Linked DNA regions of Homo sapiens. The protein of the gene in region 1 purifies or fractionates together with the protein of each later gene. This does not show direct contact. Each region holds a gene or a part of one and is shown in the gene's direction. Other genes may lie near its edges. The genes, in order: MYH8 and SOD2.

Region 1 (3,823 bases):
TCTTCTCTGATTTCTGTTTGACAGCGGAGAATCTGGTGCCGGAAAGACTGTGAACACCAAGCGTGTCATCCAATACTTTGCAACAATTGCAGTTACTGGAGAGAAGAAGAAGGATGAATCTGGCAAAATGCAGGTAGGTCTGATAGCCAGAGTCAAAACCTCTGTCAAGGCTCTCAGACATCTGGAGTCCCAGATGTGAGAACTGCTCCTTCCTTTGCAGGGGACTCTGGAAGATCAAATCATCAGCGCCAATCCCCTACTGGAGGCCTTTGGCAATGCCAAAACTGTGAGGAATGACAACTCCTCTCGCTTTGTGAGTCTCTTGGTCTCAACCCCTAACTTCCAGAGTAGCCACGTCTGAATTATTATTTCATTTGCATCTCTCTTTGTGTTTCAGTTTTCTAATACTAAATATTCTTTTCAAGGGTAAATTCATTAGAATCCACTTTGGTACTACAGGGAAGCTGGCATCTGCTGATATAGAAACATGTGAGTAACAGGACCATTGAAAATCAAAACAGAGAGACAAGTGATTTCATTTGCAGGGATATTTTGCCACCCTTGCTGTGCATGAAGCCTGTTAAAAGGGTAGTCTGCTGCCAGTACTGCCTGTAAGCTAATGCTAGGCTTACCCATAATCCACTGAGTGCTCCCTTTATCTCAATCTCAGACTTGATGATTCTGTAACACATCCTAGAGAAATTCCTGCCTCAGAAGCAACTATGATTTTTTTCCAGGACAAAAACTGGGCTACTTATGGGTTTCCAATACATCTCTGTGGTTTGCTCCTGATCTGAGTTTTGGTAGATGTTTCCAAGGTAGGCCCTCACCACCCAGAGTGAATCCTAGGTGATCCAAAGAAGGAGGGGATATTAGGGATCAACTAAAATACAGAGGTCATGGATCCTTCATGTGAAAAATATATTTGTCCTAGAGCAGGTATGCTTCAGTTGCTGCCCTTAGACAGTGAGAATCACTGTCTATCTGCAATTGGTCATCAAGTTGAAATCTCATTGGAGCCAAATGTAATGCTCCAAATTTGACCAAAGACGTGAGGTTCATTTACTATCTCAGAAGCATTGATACTTTTTTCAAACTCGATATCTATTTCCCTCTCCAGATCTTTTAGAAAAGTCCAGAGTTACTTTCCAGCTAAAGGCGGAAAGAAGCTACCATATTTTTTATCAGATCACTTCCAATAAGAAGCCAGATCTAATTGGTAAGAAAGAACTTAAAGTCATAGATAGAAGTTAATATTTTTATTAACAATGTCTAATGTAAAATGTATGCCCTGAATTCTGTGACCCAGAAATGCTCCTGATCACCACCAACCCATATGACTATGCCTTCGTCAGTCAGGGGGAGATCACAGTTCCCAGTATTGATGACCAAGAAGAGTTGATGGCCACTGATGTAAGTCAAAAACACTAATTTTAAAAATCCATTATGTATGGAAATGACAATAGCAAACTACTGTAGGTGTGGTTACCTTAGGATATGTATAAATTCTCTTATAAGTTAGTCTCTTCAGCCCTAACTTTTGTCCTCTCATTTTTCCTGGTAGAGTGCCATTGACATCCTGGGCTTCACTCCTGAAGAGAAAGTGTCCATCTATAAACTCACAGGGGCTGTGATGCATTATGGGAACATGAAATTCAAGCAAAAGCAGCGTGAGGAGCAAGCTGAGCCAGATGGCACAGAAGGTACCAAATGAAACTTTATCTGGGTTTAATGAGAGAATGTAGCAAAAAAAAAAATCCTATTTTACACTCACATCTCCTTTGTGGCTGGACTTGCGACTTGTGAAGGGCATATACACATTTACACACACTGCATGCTTTCCTCACCCCCTCTCTTCCTTACATCTCCATGTCTCCATCATTTCCATCCAGCCCAAATAAGTCACAAACAAACCCCAATAGCCACTTATAAGCACAAACTATGAGATAGAATGAGATATAATAGTGCTCCTGGTTGGCCTTGGCAACGAAGGTGGGTATATGTAGATAACTGTAGACTGCTCTATTTCAGCACTAGATAGGAAGACCCTAGGAACTGACAGCAGAGAATCTGCCCAAATACAGGGCTGGGGAGAAAGATACCCCTAGAGTCATCTGTAAGCAAGTGTGTATTGTCTGTATATAAATCCATAGACAATATAGGCAGCAAGTAAGAGTTAAAAAAAGGAATTGAGAAAAAAGATCATATATTCTACGTATGGAAAGAGCACGCAATATACAGGATCTACCCCAGAAAGACAGTTATCGCTCCTTAAAGCCTTTCCTGACCACCTCGAATTGACATTCTTTCTTCCTCCTCTAAATGTTTCAGCAGTTACTGGTGTACCTGACATGTGGCATTTATTTACGTTATAGTCACCGACAGAATTTTAGAAAGGGATTCTGTAGGGATCATGCAGTAAATTTTAATCTCCACATTTGTAGATAAAGAAATTAATCCAGCAAGGTTTAATAGGGAGGTGAAAAACTAAGATAAGAATCAAAATATTCTGACTTTTACCCTCTCTAACAGTGAATATTTATCTTATCCTTCCAACTACACCTAATGTGTCTTAAAAACAGGGACTATGGCTTTTACTTACAAAAAACTGCAAGACGGCAATAAATACTACATATGTTTACAGTTGATGAAAAATTTCTTAAAAACTACTTGAAATAAATCACTAAAGATCAGTATAACCAATCAACCATTTACTGGCAACCACATGCTCTAAGGTTAGAAAACCTCATTTGGCCTTTTATAGAATTATTTAAGCTTTTTATTTAAATAATAGATTGAATTGGAGAAAAATGGAAAGATTAGGTAAAAGAGGATATCCTTCATGAAACAACATGTCCTGAACTGTGTCTCTGCAGTCGCTGACAAGGCAGCCTATCTCCAGAGTCTGAACTCTGCAGACCTACTCAAAGCCCTCTGCTACCCTAGGGTCAAGGTTGGCAATGAGTATGTCACCAAAGGCCAGACTGTGCAGCAGGTAAGTGCATGACCTCAATGAATCACACACATCTCAGGCCTTCATGGCATGTCTTTAACAATACCAACAAACATTACTCTATCTGTGAAGGTGTACAATGCGGTGGGTGCTCTGGCCAAAGCCGTCTACGAGAAGATGTTCCTGTGGATGGTCACCCGCATCAACCAGCAGCTGGACACCAAGCAGCCCAGGCAGTACTTCATCGGGGTCTTGGACATTGCTGGCTTTGAAATCTTTGATGTGAGTTATATTAACAAGAATTAAGAAGGAGGCAATTGTGGGCTTTGATATATTAGGTATTATCATTATTCATCCACATTTATAGCGTCCATATTACTTGCTCCAACACTGCACCTAGAACAAAGGTTATCTCCAAAATAGGAGGTAACATAATGTACTACTAATAATAGCTAACGCTCACTGGGCCAGCAGTGTACACTAGGGACTTCAAAACGTTACCATATTTAATCTTCAAAACAACCCAAGGAGTAGCTAATATTCCCCCAACTTATATAGAAGAAACTAAGATGCAGGGAAATCAAAACACTAGCTAAAGATCCCACAGGTGCATAAGACAAATCCAGGACAGCAACCCAGATCTACAGCATTTGATCCATACACAAGGCTTCTTCATAGAGAAGAAAAGGCCCAAAGGTAGAAGCCTAGAGACAGATGATAGTCTGTCTCTCCTCTTCCAGATTTGTCTTACATAAACTATTTTACCTCCAGGGCATCAGTTCACCATCTATAAAATAAAGGAGTAAATTATTACAAAGACCTTTTAGATCTTCAACTGCTATACTATATCAGGTCCCTGCTTTCACACAC
Region 2 (3,823 bases), on another chromosome or scaffold:
CCATCTATGAGTGAGAACATGCGGTGTTTGTTTTTTTGTCCTTGGAATAGTTTGCTGAGAAGGATGGTTTCCAGCTTCATCCATGTCCCTATAAAGGACATGAACTCTTCCTTTTTTATGGCTGCATAGTATTCCATGGTGTATATGTGCCACATCTTCTTAAACCAATCTATCATTGATGGACATTTGGGTTGGTTCCAAGTCTTTGCTATTGTGAACAGTGCCACAATAAATATACGTGTGCATGTGTCTTTATAGCAGCATGATTTATAATCCTTTGGGTATATACCCAGTAATGGGATGGCTGGGTCAAATGGTATTTCTAGTTCTAGATCCCTGAGGAATCGCCACACTGTCTTCCACAATGGTTGAACTAGTTTACAGTCCCACCACCAGTGTAAAAGTGTTCCTATTTCTCCACATCCTCTCCAGCACCTGTTGTTTCCTGACTTTTTAATGATTGACATTCTAACTGGTGTGAGATGGTATCTCATTGTGGTTTTGATTTGCATTTCTCTGATGGCCCATGATGATGAGCATTTTTTTCATGTGTCTGTTGGATGCATGGATGTCTTCTTTTGAGAAGTGTCTCTTCATATCCTTCACCTACTTTTTGATGGGGTTTGTTTTTTTCTTGTAAGTTTGTTTGAGTTCCTTGTAGATTCTGGATATTAGCCCTTTGTCAGATGAGTAGATTGCAAAAATTTTCTCCCATTTTGTAGGTTGCCTGTTCACTCTGATGGTAGTTTCTTTTGCTGTGCAGAAGCTCTTGAGTTTAATGAGATCCCATTTGTCAATTTTGGCTTCTGTTGCCATTGCTTTTGGTGTTTTAGACATGAAGTCCTTGCCCATGCCTGTGTCCTGAATGGTACTGCATAGGTTTTCTTCTAGGGTTTTTATGGTTTTAGGTCTAACATTTAAGTCTTTAATCCATCTTGAATTAATTTTTGTATAAGGTGTAAGGAAGGGATCCAGTTTCAGCTTTCTACATGTGGCTAGCCAGTTTTCCCAGCACCATTTATTAAATAGGGAATCCTTTCCCCATTTCTTGTTTTTGTCAGGTTTCTCAAAGATCAGATAGTTGTAGATGTGTGGTATTATTTCTGAGGGCTCTGTTCTGTTCCATTGGTCTATATCTCTGTTTTGGTACTAGTACCATGCTGTTTTGGTTACTGCAGCCTTGTAGTATAGTTTGAAATCAGGTAGCGTGATGCCTCCAGCTTTGTTCTTTTGGCTTAGGATCGTTTTGGCAGTGCAGGCTCTTTTTTGGTTCCACATGAACTTTAAAGTAGTTTTTTCCAATTCTATGAAGAAAGTCATGGGTAGCTTGATGGGGATGGCATTGAATCTATAAATTACCTTGGGCAGTATAGCCATTTTCACGATATTGATTCTTCCTATCCATGAGCATGGAATGTTCTTCCATTTGTTTGTGTCCTCTTTTATTTCCTTGAGCAGTGGTTTGTAGTTCTCCTTGAAGAGGTCCTTCACATCCCTTGTAAGTTGGATTCCTAGGTATTTTATTCTCTTTGAGGCAGTTGTGAATGGGAGTTCACTCATGATTTGGCTCTCTGTTTGTCTGTTGTTGGTGTATAAGAATGCTTGTGATTTTTGCACATTGATTTTGTATCCTGAGATTTTGCTGAAGTTGCTTATCAAATTAAGGAGATTTTGGGCTGAGATGATGGGGTTTTCTAAATATAAAATCATGTCATCTGCAAACAGGGACAATTTGACTTCCTCTTTTCCTTATTGAATACCCTTTATTTCTTTCTCCTGCCTGATGGCCCTGGCCAGAACTTCCAACACTATGTTGAATAGGAGTGGTGAGAGAGGGCATCCCTGTCTTGTGCCAGTTTTCAAAGGGAATGCTTCCAGTTTTTGCCCATTCAGTCTGATATTGGCTGTGGGTTTGTCATAGATAGCTCTTATTATTTTGAGATATGTCCCATCAATACCTAATTCATTGAGAGTTTTTAGCATGAAGGGCTGTTGAATTTTGTCCAAGGCCTTTTCTGCATCTGTTGAGATAATCATGTGGTTTTTGTCTTTGGTTCTGTTTATATGCTGGATTACTTTTATTGATTTGTGTATGTTGAACCAGCCTTGCATCCCAGGGATGAAGCCCACTTGATCATGGTGGATAAGCTTTTTGATATGCTGCTGGATTCAGTTTGCCAGTATTTTATTGAGGATTTTTGCATTGATTTTCATCAGGGATATTGGTCTAAAGTTCTCTTTTTTTGTTATGTCTCTGCCAGGCTTTGGTATCAGGATGATGCTGGCTTCATAAAATGAGTTAGGGAGGATTCCCTCTTTTTCTATTGATTGGAATAGTTTCAGAAGGAATGGTACCAGCTCTTCCTTGTACCTCTGGTAGAATTCGGCTGTGAATCCATCTTGTCCTGGACTTTTTTTGGTTGGTAGGCTATTAATTATTGCCTCAATTTCAGAGCCTGTTATTGGTCTATTCAGGGATTAAACTTCTTCCTGGTTTAGTTTTGAGAGGGTGTATGTGTCCAGGAATTTATCTATTTCTTCTAGATTTTCTAGTTTATTTGCATAGAGGTGTTTATAGTATTCTCTGTGTACTCTGTATTTCTGTGGGATTGGTGGTGATATCCACTTTATCATTTTTTATTGCATTTATTTGATTCTTCTCTCTTTTCTTGTTTATTAGTCTTGCTAGCGGTCTATCAATTGTGTTTATCTTTTCAAAAAACCAGCTCCTGGATTCATTCATTTTTTGAAGGTTTTTTTGTGTCTCTGTCTCCTTCAGTTCTGCTCTGATCTTAGTTATTTCTTGTCTTCTGCTAGCTGTTGAATGTGTTTGCTCTTGCTTCTCTAATATTTTTAATTGTGATGTTAGAGTGTCAATTTTAGATCTTTCCTGCTTTCTCTTGTGGGCACTTAGTGCTGTAAATTTCCCTCTACACACTGCTTTAAATGTGTCCCAGAGATTCTGGTATGTTGTGTCTTTGTTCTCGTTGGTTTCAAAGAACATCTTTATTTCTGCCTTCATTTTGTTATGTACCCAGTAGTCATTCAGGAGCAGGTTGTTCAGTTTCCATGTAGCTGAGTGGTTTTGAGTGAGTTTCTTAATCCTGAGTTCTAGTTTGATTGCACTGTGGTCTGAGACAGTATGTTATAATTTCTGTTCTTTTACATTTGCTGAGGAGTGCTTTACTTCCAACTATGTGGTCAATTTTGGAATAGGTGCGATGTGGTGCTGAGAAGAATGTATATTCTGTTGATTTGGGGTGGAGAGTTCTGTAGATGTCTATTAGGTCTGCTTGGTGCAGAGCTGAATTCAATTCCTGGATATCCTTGTTAACTTTCTGTCTCGTTGATCTGTCTAATATTGACAGTGGGGTGTTAGAGTCTCCCATTGTTATTGTGTGGGAGTCTAAATCTCTTTGTAGGTCTCTAAGGACTTGGTTTATGAATCTGGGTGCTCCTGTATTGGGTGCATATATATTTAAGATAGTTAGCTCTTCTTGTTGAATTGATCCCTTTACTATCATGTAATGGCCTTCTTTGTCTCTTTTGATCTTTGTTGGTTTAAAGTCTGTTTTATCAGAGACTAGGATTGCAACCCCGGCCTTTTTTTTTGTTTTCCGTTTGCTTGGTAGATCTTCCTCCATCCTTTTATTTTGAGCCTATGTGTGTGTGTCTCTGTACGTGAGATGGGTTTCCTGAATACAGCACCCTGATGGGTCTTGACTCTTTATCCAGTGTGCCAGTCTGTGTCTTTTAATTGGAGCATTTAGCCCATTTACATTTAAGGTTAATATTGTTATGTGTGAATTTGATCCTGTCACTA

Evidence for each region.
Region 2: the proteins of MYH8 (region 1) and SOD2 purify together in Homo sapiens (co-immunoprecipitation; one large-scale study listed by IntAct). This does not show direct contact.

What each region holds. Positions count from the first base shown.
Region 1 is NC_000017.11:10,411,782-10,415,604, reverse strand, and holds part of MYH8 (myosin-8), read left to right. Parts: intron 1-24; coding exon 25-133; intron 134-220; coding exon 221-313; intron 314-425; coding exon 426-489; intron 490-1,120; coding exon 1,121-1,219; intron 1,220-1,309; coding exon 1,310-1,413; intron 1,414-1,564; coding exon 1,565-1,703; intron 1,704-2,876; coding exon 2,877-2,995; intron 2,996-3,085; coding exon 3,086-3,235; intron 3,236-3,823. UniProt on the Homo sapiens protein: Muscle contraction.
Region 2 is NC_000006.12:159,672,713-159,676,535, reverse strand, and holds part of SOD2 (superoxide dismutase [Mn], mitochondrial isoform A precursor), read left to right. Parts: 3' UTR 1-3,823. UniProt on the Homo sapiens protein: Destroys superoxide anion radicals which are normally produced within the cells and which are toxic to biological systems.